2 separate regions of the Homo sapiens genome follow, and region 2 is linked to region 1. Evidence: fine-mapped expression QTL. A gene starts in region 1. The other region holds a variant in brackets. All regions are shown on one strand. Distances are between the middles of the regions. Region 1 holds the start of CYB561D1 (cytochrome b561 family member D1). Region 2 holds the start of SYPL2 (synaptophysin like 2).

What was found. PIP is the estimated chance that this variant, and not a neighbour inherited with it, causes the effect.
Region 2: its variant is the best candidate, but not a certain one, in a credible set for the expression of CYB561D1 in whole blood (INTERVAL, PIP 0.57).

What each region holds. Positions count from the first base shown.
Region 1 is chr1:109,489,268-109,497,267 of GRCh38, reverse strand. CYB561D1 (cytochrome b561 family member D1) reads right to left here and starts at 3,174. Exons shown (of 3, transcript NM_182580.3): 1 at 2,981-3,174; 2 at 2,088-2,125; 3 at 1-1,512. The coding sequence starts at 3,128. The coding sequence ends at 1,009. It overlaps ATXN7L2 (ataxin 7 like 2), which reads right to left. Exons shown (of 11, transcript NM_001350175.2): 8 at 7,140-7,338; 9 at 6,876-6,997; 10 at 5,551-6,346; 11 at 4,534-4,682. The coding sequence ends at 4,668. RefSeq lists enhancers at 2,534-3,034, 3,024-3,103 and silencers at 3,174-3,403, 6,362-6,411.
Region 2 is chr1:109,464,829-109,474,887 of GRCh38, reverse strand. SYPL2 (synaptophysin like 2) reads right to left here and starts at 8,342. Exons shown (of 6, transcript NM_001040709.2): 1 at 7,991-8,342; 2 at 7,755-7,829. The coding sequence starts at 8,044. RefSeq lists enhancers at 7,910-8,409, 8,410-8,911. The variant T/C (reference allele first, on the strand shown) is at 6,561.

The DNA.
Region 1 (8,000 bases):
CTATGTGCTAAGGCAAGAACCTGAGCCCTAAGAAGGGCAAAGCATGAGATGCCTGGGGCTCCTTTGCCCTGAGAAGTGATTTCGGGGGAGGGAGCGCACGCAGGCCCTGCAGCCCTCAAGCCCGGATCCTGAGGTGGGCTGAAGGAAGATCTTAGCTGGGCTAGGCAGCCCAGCCAGCAGCCTTCGGCTTGGTTAAGCCAATGCCCTCCTGCTTCTCCAAAAGCTTTAAAGTGACTTTAGTGCCTTTACCGTCTTAGAGTCCAGAAGACCCTCACCTGAGTCCCTTCTTTCCACAGTGCCTGACCCCCTGTGCCCTGGCACAGGGACCAAATCAGCACAAATTTCTGAAGGGCCTCAAGGGCAGAGCTGTCCCTCCAGGGTAGTAAAGGGAGAGTAAAGAACTACCCCCTGAGTCTGCTAAGTGGTCCACGTGGTCCACAGCTGGGAGAGTGTTCTGAGACATCGACCTGACAGACGCTGTATATTAGAGAAGGAAGGGACTTAGAGATTGTTTAGAAACATTTCACAGATGAAGAAACAGTGGTCTTAAGATATGGAATGTACCTAAGGTTGTACAACAGAGCCTAAGAGGACCATATCCCATAAATAAGACCCATGGGCTCTCTCCACTACATCACACTGCTTTCTTAAAAGTAACCCAAATATCCCTGGATGCCATTCATAACTTACAGGAACCCAGTTTTTCATCAGGCACACAAGCAAGAAATGACCACCAGCACATCACTATCACCACCCAAAACTCTGTCTCTCATCAAGTAGAGGCTTCAGGATCAGGCTCTCCATCACCTTCCACTCATACCCAGTACATCTCCCCATTTTGACCCACTGAATTATTCCTCAACAATAGCAGCTTTGGTTTCTGCAGTCCCTGGACCAGCCAAGAAGTGCGAAAACCTGACCACTTCTTAAATAGATCCCTTATAGATCACCAAAGGAACCATGATGTTCAAGGCAAGCGTCCCACCTAGATTCAGCGTTCGCAGGAACTCACATTTCCATTTTCTTCCTCGGCAAGTAGGATCTGGAAATCTGGTGCATGATCACCAGGGCTGGATAGACGGGCAGTGCCAGGCACAGGTACCAGGCCGCACCTTTGATCTGGGCCTGGAACCATACTGAGTACATGCCCAGAAGCACCGTTACTGTAGCCATCAGGTAGACCACCAGTCCACATGTCAGATGGTAGAGCTTGAGGCGAGCCACCCTTGAGACCCTGGCTGCCCGGGGACAAAGGAGGCAGAGCCCACACAGTGCCTGGACAGCAGTGGCCAGCAGTGTCAGGGCTCCCACCCAGCTGTGCCAGGACACCAGATGAGGCAGCTCACTGCGGGTCCTGCTGGAGATGATGAAGCCCAGGCCCAGAGCTGCACAGAGGATGGCTAGGGTCTGCCCTGCCCAGTGGAGCCGGATCCGTGCTTTTCGGGAGCAGAAGAAGAACAGGGAGTGTTCAGGTGAGAAGAGTAGGATGGCTTCAGCCATGCAGAGGCAGAACTGTGAACATAGGAGAGAGCCAGTAAGCCTCATGTCTGGCTTGGAGGCCTGAGAAAAAGGAGGTGCTCTCATACATCCTAACAAAGAGGACAAAGGGTAAGGGTTAAATAAGTTCAACCAGGACCACCAGCCTCACAGCTCAACATTTCTGGGAACATTTGGGAATCAGCACTTGAGTGCACGTCTCCTCATTCAGGTTGACATCTCCCCATCCCAACCTCTACAATGACTCCCATTTCTTGACCAGTGGAGTAGCAAATGTTAAACTTCTTCCTGAACTTTGGGGACAAGTCGGGAGATGACCGGATAACACCTCTCCCCCCTTCTCCTTTCCGGCCCCAATGGAGAAAGAAATTATCTTCCATGCCCTCCCGCCCTTTTCAACCATCTGACAACTGCCTATGGCCCAGCCCTCCAGGTTTCCCAATCCCATAGGCTGCAGGGAAAGATGAGCCCTAGATGTTTCCTCCACCTGTCTTAGCCTTAGAAAGGCTGAGCTTTCTGAAAGCTGGGTGCTTCCCTGGGAGAATGAGGTGAGGAATACCCAAACAAATCAGATAGAAGCCTAAACTCACCGCCAAGGCCATGAATACAGGGTGCCAGGAGAAAAGACCTAAGAATCAAAGAGAACAGGCTGAGGGCTTGGTACCATTGTTCCTGCCCCTGTAGCTAGGTGGAACCCAAAGAATCTAGCCACAGGAGAAAAGTACCATCCCCAATCCTAATCGGGCACAGGAACTAAGGACAAAGTGGAGCAGCCAAGGAGCCCCAGGGTGAGCAACCAAGAGGGCCTCCTTATCCACACACATACAACAGTTTGGCCCGGGTTCCCCGTTCAGCACCTCTCAGCTGGCAGCCCAGTCCTCTGCCCCTTTTTTGTTTTTTGTTTTTTTTGGTTGTTGTTTTTTGTTTTTTTTTTGATACGGAGTCTCGCTCTGTCGCACAGGGTGGAGTGCAGTGGTGCAATCTCGGCTCACTGCAGCCTCCACCTCCCGGGTTCAAGCGATTCTCCTCCCTCAGCCTCCCAAGTAGCTGGAACTACAGGCGCGCGCCATCACGCCTGGCTAATTTTTGTATTCTTAGTAGAGACGGGGTTTCACCATGTTGGCCAGGCTGGTCTCGAACTCCTGACCTCAAGTGATCCACCCGCGTCGGCCTCCCAAAGTGCTGGGATTTCAGGCATGACCCACCGCGCCCGGCCTCCTTCACTTCTATCCTCCATCAGGGGACCTGTTTCTGAGGAAGTAGTTCGGTCTGTTCAATCGTCTGCCCTTCCCCCACAGCACCCAAAACCCCATTATTCCAGGATCCCTGGGGCCCCGCCCCACCAGGCCCTCAAAATCCCTCCACTGTTTCTGTCTCCCCTTTACTGCTGGGGTCCCTCCTCCAAGTCTCCCGGGGCTCCCAAGCGCTGCCCCTCCAGCATCTCCACTCCGCCCCCTTCCGCAACCCCGCCCCGCACACTCACTGGTTCCTGGCCGGGACAGCGCTGTCAGAAAGATGGTGAAGCCCAAAGCTACCAGGTGCGCCAAGATCCCACTGCCTCTCCGCAGCCAGCGGGTCAGTCTCGGCTCCCCAGCTGGAGCGGGAACCAGACCTACCTCCAGGGGCTGCATGGCCGTGGCCCGCGGGCCCGTACACTCCAGCTGCCCGAACACGTCTTCCGGGTTTGCGATCGCGGAGGCGGTGGCGGCTGCAGGAGAGGCTCCTCCCCGGGGACGCCGCCGGCAGTGCGGCGGAGTGGCCCACAGCGCCCTCTGGGGGCTGGGGGGGAAACGCGAGTGCCCCGGAGAGGCCCGCTCCCGCGAGAGCCCGGAGGCAGAAGGGGACCGAACAGTTCCCAGCCCACCTTCATTTGTATCTGTGTGTCTGTCTACAAGGGCCTAAATCCCAAGCAGCCTGTGGAAATTACTTTTGTGGCAAACGATTTCAGTGAAACCCCAAATCACACACTTGGTACGCTGAACCAAGACTGTGAAACAAGTGTTTGGAGCCGATTTCTAGTAGTACTGGATTTCCCTGGCTGTGCACTGTCTCCTGTCACCTCATTTTGTCTTGTTCAGGGAACAAGCTTCCTCCATGCCTAAGAGCAAGGAGAATAGGAAAGGACATCGCCAAAATATAGTGCCTTGAACCTGGTGGACCAAAGGAGGGAAATGCAAGTCTCCTCTCGCATCTGCACGGGAGTGGTCCCCAGCGAGATAAATGGAAAAACTAGGGCACTCCCAGCCCTGCCGCCTCCTCAGCAGCTGCTCAGCCCTGAGGAGCCAGGTGATCCTGAAGGACCAAGGCCTCCCACACTCCTGTGGCCTCCCACACCACCAGTTCTGCAAGTGATGATGCCTTTTCCCTTCCTGCCTCCAAAAAAGGGGTGGTTCAACCCAAGGAGGCCTCCCTGGGAAAGGTTCTACCCCTTCCTTAAAGGCAAACCCACAGGCAGGGAAGGAAGGCTGTCCAATAGAAAACAGGAATATCCCAACAGCAATGACCAACCCAGCTCAAGCTCCCTAAGTGGCTGAGAAAATGAGGCTGCAGGAACAGCTGAAGAAAAGCAGGCAATAATTCAGGGAGGGATGGATGCCTAGGGTTGCTGAAGGACCAGAAAAGGGTCACAAGCCAATTCCCAGACCCTCGGGGCAAGGATCCTAGAAAGAGCCAGAAGTGCAGCTCCCCCTCTCGAGTTTCTCTTCCCAATGGGACCATAGTCGTCTCTGGTGTCAAGACTCAGGAAGCCTTACTCATTCAGAGCCACACGCCTCATCATCCTGTCTGGAAAGACTACCCCAGTGACACAAACATTTTTCACACTATTGAAAATGACAAGATGACAATAATAATAATAATGAGCATAAGAGACTTTTGCAGGCAAGCTATGGGAGCTGGAGTCTGGCTGCCTATCATCTCAGCCTCCCAGGGTAGGGCTGGGGACAGTAAGGACACTCATTTTGTTATTTTTTTTCCTTCCTTTTCTATGTTTCTGTTTTTATATTTTCATAGCAGCAACAGAACAGGGAGACAGTCTTGAGGTATTTTAAAGAGCTTTTTTTCTTAAAAAAAAATAATATAAAGTTATAAAAAGCGGCAGCAGCCTGGGGCCCGGATCTGGAGGGGAGGAGGTGCTGGCGGCTCCGTTGCAGTGGGCAGGCACTTTCTCGTTAATGGGCTTTTGACTGCAGGAAGACAAGAGGCGAGAGAAAGGGTCAGGGTGGGGGCCTACCAGCTGTCCTACCCAGTGAACTGTGTGCACTACAGAGGCTAAAGCTTGATTTCCTTCTGCTGGCCTGGTGAGTAAAACTGAGCAAGGGGGAAGATGAATGCCAGCTCACCAGGGGCAGCCTGGGTAGTGAAGCTGGAGAACACACAGGGTTTATGATTAGGCCCACATCTAACCCAGGAGAGCACCCCCGTCCCACCTCCAGTAAGTCCCTCCTGGCAGAGATCATATGGAGAGCACATAGCACACTACACCAGGGCTCCCACCAGAAGAGGCAAATAAAACTGGCTGCAGGCTTTACTGGAAACCCTGGAGAACTTGCCTGTCACCTGCACACCTGGAGGTGGGCACATGTGCATAAGTGGACATGGGGTTGTGTGCCTGCCCTTCAAGGCCCTGATGCCCAGAGGAAAAACCAGTGAGACCAGCCCACCCACCTTGCTGCTCGGCATGTTAGGCTGTGACCCAGGGACTCAAACTCCCTTTCCTTCAGGGAACAGAGGTAGCTCCAGTACCTGGAATGAGGGTCACAGCCAATTCAGAAAGAAGTAGCCCTTTGATTATAGCAAAAGCAGGGGTGGAGGGGTGCCGCATCTCCTCAGCCCAAGGGAAAGGGTTAGGGATAGGGGAAGGTTCACCAGGCAAAAAGCTGGAGTCACTTTGCTAAGAACTGACCTACCTCTTCCTAAAGAAAACAGTCCAGGAACTCTCTCAACTTCCCCTTCCTCCCTTTCCCTGCACAAACACCAATGTAGCATCTTCTCTGTATCAGGTACCCCCTGTGTGCCCCACCCTCATCAATCTTCAGGGAGCCTGGCTGGTACCTTCAGTGTAGAGCACTTCTCCTCAAAGGCCAGGGCCGGGCCTGGCTTCTTGCGGCGCACAGAGCAGGCCACATCAGCAGGGGCACCAGCCTGACAGTGCTTGGCCTTCACTGGCCGGCAATAAGTGGCCAGGTTTTTCCGCTTCTTGGCCACCTCCTCCTCAGAGAGGCAGTTGGTTGGCAGGGCCTTGGCTGGGTGTCCAGCTGCTCCCCGGTTCTCCAGCTGAGAAGCCTTGACTGGTGTGGGGAGCTGATGAGGGGAGCCACGACAGTCCAGGGGCCCTGCCCGCTTCACTCTTGGCCCCATTGTCCCATTAAGCCCCATGCTCAGGGCTGTTTTAGTTTTGGCCGAGAGGCCCCTACAGCCAGAGGGTTTCCCTTTTCCAGTGGGCTCCAGGATGCAGGTCCGTTTAAGAGTGGTAGGGCCAGGGGATAACTTCCGCTTTCGAGAAGGGGCCTCCACCTCCACCCCGTCCTTGCCTTTGGATGACTTGCTGGCCTTGGAAGGCGGCAGCTTGCTGAAGGACGGGGATGGCGTGTTGGCAGGCAGTGGTGAGGTGATAGCCTGGCTCCCGCCCATGCACTCTGCCTGGCTACAGGCAGCCGCCACGCTGGGGGAGCCTGCAGGGTAGCTGGGGACAAGGTTGTCCTTGGTGGGGGGCATGGAGGCTGGGCAGGCAGGTCTCAGGGTTGGACCTGGAAGGCGGGGGCAGGTGCCTGTAGAGGATGGGCTCAGGGGAGCAGATAACGGGGAGTTGACAAGGTGAGCTGGAGGTTCAGCTGCCGGTGGGATCTTCCTGCAGCAAAAAGAAAGCCCCACTGTGACTGCCAAGAAACAAGACAGCTTCCCCCAACACAAGACACACTCCAGTCTCTCTGCCCCACCTAGAAATGGTCAGCAGAGCCCCAGAGTTGCTGCCATCTGCTGGGAGATGCTGGAACTGAGGGTTAGGAAGAAGACACAGGGGTGCCTGTGGAGAGGAATTAGCTAGTACCTACTAACTAGGAGGCAGCCCACTAGGAACTTCATTTTAAATCTTGGTTTGGGCATCCCCTATCCCTAGTTACCCAAAAGGTACTGGAAGTGATGGATGAAAGTCTAGATTCACCCCCAGACCACCCTTCCATGCCCTGCCTTAGCCAAACTCTAGGCTGCCAAGTTTTCCCACCTCCTTTTCATGCTACTCCCTATCTGGGGTCCTGCTGGCAAATAGCCAAGGCACACCTATGGGTATACAGGAAAGATCAGGGCTTCTGAAGCCCAAGTATGTCTGGAACCTAGGAATTTCCATTCTAGAACTTCCATTCTGGGTCCGAGAGACTTACTTCCACATGTGTGTGCTGAGGTGCCGTTCCAGCATGGAGCTGAGTGCTGAGCAGAACCGGTCCAGCCGGCGGCTAAACACATAGCATCCTGGGCTCACCAGCCGGCTCCCAAAGGTGCAGAACTAAAGGCAGAAGGAAGGTGCATGGTTGGCAGGGTCTGGGGTGCACAGACAGCATCTGCACACAGGATCTGGCCTCCTCCCCATGTTGTTGGCCAGGAGTGCTGGGCCACCCCCTCCATAGGCCCCTATTCCAGGTCCTTACCGCCTGTGGCCGTGGGGGCCGGGTTGCATAATGGCAGTCAGGGGGTGGGTGGAGGTCGTCAGATGTCCCCTCCTCCTCACTCTCTTCGCTGGAGGCCTGGGTCCCACCCCGGGGCATGGGGAAGGGGAACAGGCCTGGGTCCCCATCACCACCACAGGGGCCTTCATCATCCAATTCACTCTCGGAGGAGGCCCGGGACCTGGAAGGGCCAAAAGGGATGCCAGGGGAATGTGACTGTTGTGGGGTCAGAGTAGGGGCATCCTTGAACCTGCCGAGCTCAAAGAGCAGGGCACCAGGGCAGACACCCTGCAGGGCAATCAGAAGAGGACAGAGGGAAGGGAAGGACAGGAGGGAACGACACAGCTCACAGAGTAAGAGACAGAGAGACTGCTCCCAAGGGATTCTCTCCCCAGCCCCTTCACCTCCCAGCCCCTTCCTCCTCAGGGGATAATCTGCTGCAGATCCGCCTCCTCCAGAAAATCTTCACAGTTAAAACTGTACCCAGCTCTGGTCAGCCCAGTCAACTCGCTCAACCCCCTTCTTGCATCACATATTCCTGTGAGCCTGTCTGTGAGCTGAGCCTGTGTTTCGTGTCTGCCCCTTGTGTGACAGGCAGAGATGCATGTGTGTCTCCTTCAGCAAGTCAGGCTCTCCCTGGGGTCCGGCATAGCCTCTGCACGCGAAGGGGCCAGTGAGTGAATACACATAGGGCTGCCTTGCCCAGGAGTGTGACCCTTTCAGCTCCCCAGTGACAAGTTTCGGTCTGTTGGAGGCAGCTGGGAAAATGTTCATATCCTGAGTGTTGGATCTGGCACACTGCCGAGAGGCTGGGGTGCTGTGGTATGCCTGGTTGGAAACAGG
Region 2 (10,059 bases), 23 kb after region 1:
AAGTACCCTCCACTTGCCTTATCAGTCTCCACTGTTTCCCCACTGGTATTTCCCTTTGTCATCTGTTGATGCTGCCATTTCTCAGTGTTAAGATCCAGAGGTGTCTCAGGTCACTCGAATTGTTTTCTTCTCCACCTTTCCTCACATTTTACTACACCTTCTCTCTCAAGTGAAATAAAATTTCCTCATCCTATGATTTTCAGATTTCTTTCTGGGAAACACACTTTGGTTAGAAAAGGAGGTGAGAGGCCAGGTGCGGTGGCTCACACCTGTAATCCCAGCACTTTGGGAGGCTGAGGCGGGTGGATCATTTGAGGTCAGGAGTTTGAGACCAACCTGGCCAACATGGTGAAACCCCATATCTACTAAAAATACAAAAATCAGCCTGGCGGTAGAGTGTCGCATGCCTGTAATCTCAGCTACTTGGGAGGCTGAGGCAGGAGAATCACTTGAACCCGGGAGGCGGAGGTTGCAGTGAGCCGAGATCGTGCCACTGCACTCCAGCCTGGCAACAGAATGAGACCTTGTCCCTCTCCCGCCCACCGCCAAAAAAAAAAAAAAAAAGAAAAGAAAAGAAAAGAAAAAAGAAAAGGAGGTGAGAAATTGAAATGTCTTATCCTCCACATCATCTGCTCAGATTGGATTTCCTGTGCACTTACCTTTGACTTGTACACAATGTCATGTTCTTATTAAGCAATGAGCTTATTCTCTTAATTGTTCACTCTCTGTATCTTTCTTCGAGACTCAGTGTCTTGGACATTAAGCACTTGGAAGACAGCTGATCTGTATGTCAGCCCTGCATCCAGAGTCTAGAATAGAAGCTATATGCACTTTATTTTGCCAATGCTTGTTAGCATTATGGAGTGAAAGGAGACCTGAACTAGGAGTATGGAAACCTAGGTTCCAGACCTGGTCCTGTCACTAATTAGCCAGGTGAGCTCTGATAAGTCACTCTGCTCTCTGAGTCTGTTTCCTCATCTTTTTTTTTTTTTTTAGATGGAGTCTTGCTCTGTCGCCCAGGCTGGAGTGTAGTGGCGCAATCTTGGCTCACTGCAAGCTGCACCTCCTGCGTTCACACCATTCTCCTGCCTCAGCCTGTTGAGTAGCTGGGACTATAGGCGCCCACCACCATGCCCAGCTAATTTTTTGTATTTTTTTTAGTAGAGACGGGTTTTCACCGTGTTAGCCAGGATGGTCTCGGTCTCCTGACCTTGTGATCCGCCCGCCTCAACCTCCCAAAGTGCTGGGATTATAGGCATGAGCCCAGCCTGTTTCCTCATCTTAAATGGAGGGGTTTGGAGTAGATAATCTAGAGGCCCTTTCCAGCCCTGGAACTCTCTCACTCTCTGAGAGTAACACTGTCAGTGTACTCTTGACTGGGCTTGCCAACAGCTGTGCTTTGCCCCTGCGAGGTGTCCAGTGCCACTGCCCCCGGCTTGCAGCGCCTGGCCTTGCAGATCTCCATGCTGGAGCCATTGGCCTCTCTCCAAATAATGGGCACCTCTCTGTTTTCAGGAGGTTTATTCCAGACAAATGAGAATTGTCTCCATGTTTAAAGATATCTGGGAAAGAAGACAGTAAAACCTCCCTCCAATGCCTAAATACCCTCCTCTCCTGAATTAAATGATGAAGACTGCAGTAGAGCCCTGTCTGCCCGCCTTCTTCACAGAGGTAGAGAAGAGTCACTCGAAGCCTCTGCATCATTACCCTTTACTTACTCAAAGTGGCCTCACCATTGTAATAGTGGAACTTCTCTAACTCTTCCTCATAGGAATTCGCTAATCTTTTGTCAGTTCTGTGGCCATCTGATTCCTCTTAGAAGTTTCTTTATTCCTCTTAGCTTCTGGTGCCCAGAACTGGATGTGATTAGGGTGTCACATTCTGGGAAGGGCAGCACAGTTGGAAATATTTTTACCCGTTGGCAGTTAGTCAGTGAATGGCTCCTTATAGGTTCCTTAAGAAAGCAGGGGCCGGGCATGGTGGCTCACAGCTGTAATCCCAGCAGTTTGGGAGGCCAAGCAGGAGAATGGCTTGAGCCCAGGAATTTGAGACTAGCAACATATAGGCAACATAGCAAGACCCTCCCCTACAGAAACTACAAACAAAAAATTAGCTGGGCATGGTGGTGCCTGCTAATAGTCCCAGTTACTCAGGAGGCTGATGGGGAGGAATCACTTGAGCCCAGGAGTTCAAGGCTGCAGTGAGCTATGATCATGCCACTGCACTCCAGGCTGGGCAACAGAACAAGACCCCCATCTCAAAAAAAAAAAAAAAAAAAAAAAGTAAAGAAAAAGAAAGTAGGTACTCAAAACTTGGGGGCAGTGAACGGTCAGTTATGGAGCCTTCTCTTCACCAGCACTCTCCTGAAAGGCACTCCTGAGCATCTACAGAAAGATAAAATTTAAGAGCATGTACTATGCCTAGCATGTACAGTGCCTACTATGCATGGTTCCAGGCACTATTATCTAGTAGTGAACAAAAGAGAAAAAAGGCCAAGCATGGTGGTTCATGCCTGTAATCCCAGCACTCTGGGAGGCTGAGGTGGGAGGATCACTTGAGCCCAGGAGTTTGAGACTAGCCAACTTTTTATTTAGCCAAGAAAAATTAGCCAGGTGTGGTGATGCACATCTGTGGTCCCAGCTACTCTGGGGGCTGATGTGGGAAGATCTCTTGAGCCCAGGAGGTCAAAGCTACATGATCACACCACTGGACACCAGCCTGGGTGACAGAGCGAGACCCTATCTCAAAAAAAGAAAAAGAATAACAAAATCTCTGTCCTCATGGGGCTCATACTCTAGAGCTGCACTATCCAAAACAGTAGCCCCTAGCCAAGCTTGATTATTTAAGTTTAAGTTAATCAGAATTAAATTAAATAAAAAATTCAAGCCGGGTGCAGTGTCTCAGACCTGTAATCCCAACACTTTGGGAAGCAAGGTGGGAGGATCACTTGAGGCCAGGAGTTCAAGACCAGCCTGGGTATCATAGCAAGACTCCATCTCTACCAAAAAAAAAAAGTAGTCGGGCATGGTGGTACATGCCTGTAGTCCCAGCTGCTGAAGTGTGTGGATCACTTGAGCCCAGGGGTTCAAGGCTGCAATGAGCTATGATCACGCCACTGCACTCCAGCCTGGATGACAGAGTGAGACTGGATCAAACAACAACAAAAAAGTTCAGGCCGGGTGTGGTGGCTCATGCCTGTAATCCCAGCACTTTAGGAGGCCAAGGCGGGCAAATCACTTGAGGTCAGGGGTTCGAGACCAGCCTGGCCAACATGGCAAAATGCCGTCTCTACTAAAAAAAAAAAAATTCAGTTCAGTCACGCTAGGCACATTTCAAGTGCCCAATAGCCTCATGTGACTAGCAGGTACTATCTTAGAGAGCACCGATTCTAAAACTTTTCCATTATTACCAAAAGTTCTGCTGTGTCTAAACGACGGTCCTGAGGTTCTGACAATCCTGAATCATGCTTTCGGATTCCTCAGAGGGCAAAATACACCCACAATAACTTTAGTATTTATTGTATTCTGATTCTTTTCAAGTCAGGGATCTTACACGATGATTTTTTATTTACCAAAATATATGTTTAAATCTGAACACTATACAGTCGGATGGTACCAGAGCAAAATGAGAACATCTGAGGGGAATCACAGGTTCACAGAACAGCAGAACAAAAGGGACCTCAAAGATTCTCACACCCAATCATCTCATGTCACAGAGGGGGACTGTGAAGCCCCAAAAGATTAAGTCACTTTCCCAAAGTCACATTTAGTTAATGTGAGAGCCAGGCTTAGAATTCACATCTCCTGATTCCCTGTCCAGTGCTCTTTCCATTTCATTTGCTCATTAACTCAACACTGATTGAGCATCTACCTTGTGCCAGGTGCTGGAGATATGAAGACGAATAACACCTATCTCCTGCTCTTGAGAATTCACATCAAGAAAGGAGCGTCATAGCAAAACAAACAAACAAAAAATAATAAAAACAAACACTGCATCCCAGAGTTATTGAGGCTAAAGAAGAGATCTCTACCATGTGCATTGAGGATTACAAGGAGGGAAGGAGTAGCTCTGTGCCTTGGGGTGCAGAAGCTCAGAAAGACACTTTCTCCCAACCCCCTCCATGTCTCCTAACCCTCCATCTTTCCACTCCAGATTTGCTTTCTTCCCTAACTTTGCCAAGTGACTGAGACACAGAGAAGAGAAGGAAAGAACTAAAATCACCCCTGTCACCAAGCACAAGGCTCTGAGATGAGCAAACTGGTTATAAAGAGCAGCCAAGGAGAGGTAGAGGACCTGAGACAAGGGGGAGTTCTAGCATTCTGGTGCCAACCAGCCTTTCTCCTCTTGGACCTCCATTGCTGGGACAGCGACGGTCATTTTCTGCCCTCCGCCTCCTCTTGCTTCTGCATCTCTTTTGCAACCTTAAACCTTTCCAGTTTAAGGATGAGGCTCCCCTTTGGCACTGACATGCTCGCTGGTGATAATCCTGTGACAGTCCTGAGGACACTAACATCACCAGTTAGCTCAGAGCACAAGGAAGACAAATTCTCTCCCCAGGTCCTACTCCCACGCTTATCTCATTGTTTTTTGTTTTGTTTAGGCGAGGTAACAGGCTCATGCCTGTAATCTCAGCACTTTTGGAGGCTGAGGTGGGAATATCACCTGAGCCCAGGAACTCAAAGCCAGCTGGGGCAGCATAGCAAGACCCGATTTTTACAAAAATTTTTTACAACTTAGCTAGGCATGGTGGCATGTGCCTTTGGTCCCAGATACTTGAAAGGCTGAGGTGGGAGGATTGCCTGAGCTTGGAAATTTAGGCTGCAGTGAGATGTGTTCGTACCACTGCACTCCAGCCTCAGCGATAGAGCCAGTCTCTATCTTAGAGCCTGTCTGAAAAAAAAAAAAGATTTGATATTTACTCACTCAAGGTTCCAGAGCTAGAAAGCAAGAAAGCAGAGGGGACTCAATTTAAACCGAAGCCTATCTGACCTCAAAAATCTGTCTCTATCTTCCTTTTTCTTTTGTTTTATTTTCCTTTTTTTTTTTTTTTTTTTTTTTTTGAGACAAGGTCTAGTTCTGTCACTCAGGCTGGAGTGCGCAGCTCATTGCAGCCTCGACCTCCTGGGCTCAATGATCCTCCAGCCTCAGCCTCCCAAGGAGCTGGGACCACAAGCATGTGTCATCACACCCAACTAATTTTATTTTTTAATAGAGACGCGACCTCCCCTTATTGCCCAGGCTTGTGTCAAACTCCTGGGCTCAAGCAATCCTCCCACCTCAGCCTCCCAAAGTGTGTCTTTTTCTTAAAAAGAAAATTTTTTTTAAGATACTTCTTTTCTTTTCTTTTTTATCTTGAACTCCTATGATTTGATGTCCTTTTCTTTTTTAAAAAAAAACTAGTTCTCCAATAATTGGTCTATGTCCAGGTTATTTTTGCTAGCTTAGTATAGACTTAGTGAGACTCCAGAATTGGAATTGAGGTGAGATTAGTTGATTTCTCAATTAAAAAAAAAAAAACTCTAAGATAAGCTCCTGACAAATAAAAGAATAACATTACTTTCTTTTCACAAAGATTCCAGTAAAATCTTTGCTTTTTGGTAATAATGACAACAAAAGTTCTCAATTACCATTACAATAACTGCAAGCTTTGTGTTTTCTTTTTTCCTTCTCCAATCAGGAGCATTTGATCCCTCCAAACAGGAAATGAGTGAAAAACTCAAATGACATTTCCACTGTCATTTCTGGTGCTAATGCCTGTTTACTTTTTATGTTACCTCATCTGCAGAGCTTCAAAGCAAGTGAAACTGGCGCCCTGAATTCAGGCTACCTGGGATGGCAATAAAAGCAAAGCACGTTTCTTTGTGATGCTACCCTGTGAATGAAATCTGAATTCAGAGTCTAGCCCAGGGCCCAGGTTTTAGCATTCTGAGAGAAAAGGGTCTCTGTTTTGCACAACCCCCTTTCTAAGTACTTGAAGATCATAAAAGTCTATCAGATCTTAATTCCTAGGTCATTAGTGCTGACCCCAAGACTGCATCATTTCCCTGGGCATTGCTTTGTACAGCCTTTACAGAAATGTTGTGGGTATTTGGAGTGCTGCGTGGAGGGAAGGATGGCAGGATTGAAGAAGGAAGCTTTTCAGAATCCCTCCAAGGGAGAGGAGTCCATGGTCTAATAACCTCATTGTTTCCCTTATCCTTTGACAGTCTGTCTCAAATTCTGTTGGATCCATTTGTCTAATTTAATGGTAAAATTGCTTATAATGGCTCTTCCAGTTCTGGATGCCAGTCACTCAGAGCCTTAATATCATTTTTATATGGCTCCCTCTGGCACTTGAGTGGTGGATCAGAACAGGGAAGGGGCCAAAGGCAAAAGAGCTCAATCAGCAATTGGTCTAACCACTCTTGAGGCAGTAAGAAAGGTGGAGAGTCCCCACCAGGTCCCAGAGTTTGCACTTGGGAGCTCCCAGGCTGGCCCGATAATCCCAAATGCACTTTTGCCCCTGGGTTCCAGATTTGATTATTCTCATCCAAACCATGATTTAAGAACTGGTGTCACAG[T/C]GCTAATTCTTGTCTCCAAAGCCCTGTAGAACTCAATCCTCCTCAGTATTAATGGTAACTTATTCCCTAGCTGAATTCTGTACTGAGAGCACATTAATTAAGTTATTCACACACCATTTGGTATGTGGATTGTCTAATTTAAAATCTCTTCTGCAATAGTGCACTAAATGCCCCCTACAAGTCTTTATGATTTGAGAAATTGACTGCACCTGTCCACATTCCTAATTTATACCCAGGAGGCCTTAGGCACTGGCCTAGTGAAGCAAGATAGTATTTCCACTAGACTGTAACAGGGGAAACTGAGGACCTGAGCAAGTGACTTTTTCAAGGTCACAAAGTAAGTCTAACCTAGGGCCATATTCTGGCACACCAAACTATTTAGAGCATAAGGAGACCCTAGGAAGGTTCTGATCAACATCTAACTAGTGTTGGAAATTGAAGTCCAGAGAAATGAATTGCCCAAGGTGACATAGCTGGAAAAGGCCAGTCTAGGTCTGGATCCCAGGGCCCCAGCTTCTCAGATCAGTGTTCCATTTTATTCTACATGCCACATTTTAGCCATGCCGTGATTTTTATTCTTATTTTTTTCTTTTATTTAATCATAGAACCACAAGCTCCGTTCATTCATTCATCCACTCCCTCACTCATTTACAGGAACTCGGATTACTCCAGTGACCTCAAAAGGGAACGGCGAGCCGAGAGCCTGTCCCCTGAGCCCAGTACTTGCAGGATCATCCAGGCCCTGGTGGGTTTGGGGGCAGGACGGTTTCCATCGCCTGCTTCCTTCCCTCCTTTGCCCTCTGCGGCTTCCCTCTTGGTGAAGAGCGGACCTCGTCCCCGTCGTCCTTCTCCCCCCTCCCGTCACCAAGGAGTGGTATGTGCAGGATCAGAGTTCTGGAAAGGTTACACCCGGGTCCTCTCGCCCGGGTGAAATGTGAGCGCCCTGGGCAAAGGCTCCTTGCACATAGAAGGACCGAATCCGGGACTCCGCATGCCTCGCTCTTCACCCTCCTGCCACTAAGTCCGGAGAAGCAGCCCCAGCCCGCCCCTCCCCCGCCCACCTGTCGCCGCCCCCCACCCTTCCGCCGTGGCCCGGCCGCAGCACCTCCCCAGCCCCCACCCTGGCTCCATTGCTTCAGGTCAGCGTCACAGCCCAGGCTCCCGAAATAGCCCGGGGCCGGGGCAGCGACTCACCCACTGGAGAACTTTGATGAAGCCCAGCGGCTCCTCCAGCCGCCGCCAGCGCAGCCCCACGAGTAGGCGGTCCACCTGCGGAGACACAGCCGGCCGGGGGGTCAGGGCGGTGGGGAACCCTGGGAAGGCGCTGGTCCCCTTGCCCCACTCACACGCGGTCCAGGGGTGGGATAAGTGTGCAGCCCGACATCTAGGTGGAGAGGGGCGGGTGAGAGTCCTGGGCGCGCAGGGACTACCTGCTGGCGCGGCGACTTGTCCGCCGTGCGGCCGGCGCTCTCGGTCGAGGACATGCTGGCGCGGCGAGCGCTGGGCGCGGCGTGGTGGCTTGGCTCTCTGGCCGGGAGGCGGCGGACACGGCGGGGGAGCGGGGAGCTGCAGGTCCGGGGCAGAGCAGGCGAGCGGGGCCGGAGCGCGAGCGGCCGTCGGTGGGCCGGAGTCCAGTCTGGCTGGCTGGCTGGCTGGGACGCGGGGGCGCTGCTGTTCGTGCTCTCAGAGGCTGCGGCCGCCGCGGTGCCCCGCCGGCAGCAGAAAGCCCCCGACTCGGATTCAAACTTCTGTCAAACTCGCAGCGAACTTGGCCGCCGGGTCACGTGGCGTGCGCTCCCGAACCCTCCTCCCGCCCCCTCTGCTCCCTTTCTCCGCTCGCCGGGCACCTTAAAGGGACCAGAGGCCTCCGTGGTTAGTTCCGCCGCGGGGCGGGGGGGACTCCGGGTCCTCCTCGCCGAAGCCTCCGGGACCGGTCCCCACCGAGACACCGCGGCCGTCGGAAACCCTAGCCAGGCGCACCTGGACGCACAGGCTTCAGGTTTATCCTTCCCTATTTTCCTGGATTGCAAACTGCCCAGCGCCGGTTTTTCTCCTCTTCCATACCAGAATATCCAGAACGTAAAAGATTCTCAAAAGGCACGATCAGGGCTGTGAAACAAGGTTCTAAGCCTCACGATTAACATACCGCCAGTACCGACAAAAGGGCGATAGAATATAAGCTGCTGATTTTTTATCCTGTCTAGCTAGGTATTGTTTTGATTTTTTTTTAAAACAACAAAAGACATTTGTATGTTAGTGATTTAAAAGTTATTGGCCAGGCTTGGTGGCTCACGCCTGCAATCCCAGCACTTTGGGAGGCCGAGGCCAGAAGATCACGAGGTCAGGAGTTCGAGACCAGTCTGGCCAACATAGTGAAACCCCGTCTCTACTAAAAATACAAAAAATTAGCCGGGTGTGGTGATGTGCGCCTGTAATCCCAGCTACTCAGGAGGCTGAGGCAGGAGAATTGCTTGAACCCGGGAGGTGGAAGTTGCAGTGAGCCGAGATCGCGCCATTGCACTCCAGCCCTGGCGACAGTCCAAGACTCTGTCTCCAAAAAAAAAGTTATTAATCTTTAACAAGTAGAAACTTAATCTCCTTTAAAATGGTCATTACCATTTAAATGAGAGTGAAAAAAGGTCTTTGAGGAATGAGGCGCAAAGAATATATTGAAACGTACTGAAAAGTTGACGTCTGGCTAGGCGCGGTGGCTCAAGCCTGTAATCCCAGCACTTTGGGAGGCGGAGGCGGGTGTATCACTTGAAGCCAGGAGTTCGAGACCAGCCTGGCCAACATGGTGAAACCCTGTCTCTATTAAAAATACAAAAATTAGCAGGGCGTGGTGGCACGTGCCTGTACTCCTAGCTACTCCGAAGGGTAAGGCACGAGAATTACTTGAACCCGGGAGGCGGAGGTTGCAGTGAGCCGAGATTGCACCACTGCACTCCAGCCTGGACAACAGAGCAAGACTGTGTCAAAAAAAAGAAAAAAAGAAAAAGAAAAAAGGCAGACAGAAGTGGGGAGAGAGAGAGAGGAAAAAAAAAGAAAGAAAAAGAACGGGAAGGGAAGGGAAGAAGGGAAGGGAAGGGACTGGTTGGGTTGAAGTCGTTGCATTTTTTTAACTGTAACTTGGTCTCTAACTTTTGAAAAGCATTTGGCAGGGGTGAGCAGTTGAGAATATTCCACACTTGGTTTACGAGAGCATAAATATAAGTAGTAAAAGGTTAAGTGATTTGTCCAAGGACAAATTCCTGTGCACTGGCTTGTAAATATGTATCCGTCTCATCCAAGTCATTCCTGCAGGTCCGCCCCCCCAACCGCTCCCCCCAGCACATCAGAATGAATGCCTTTTGAACAAACATTTGGCTATTATCTATACAAGTCGCTTCCCTATTGAGTAAGTGCCTTCCCAGAGCCTTGGGATTTAGAGAGAGACGTGAGGAAGGCAGCTCGGGCTGGATCAGGCCACATGGACTTGAAGGAAACTTCTCCAGTGGAT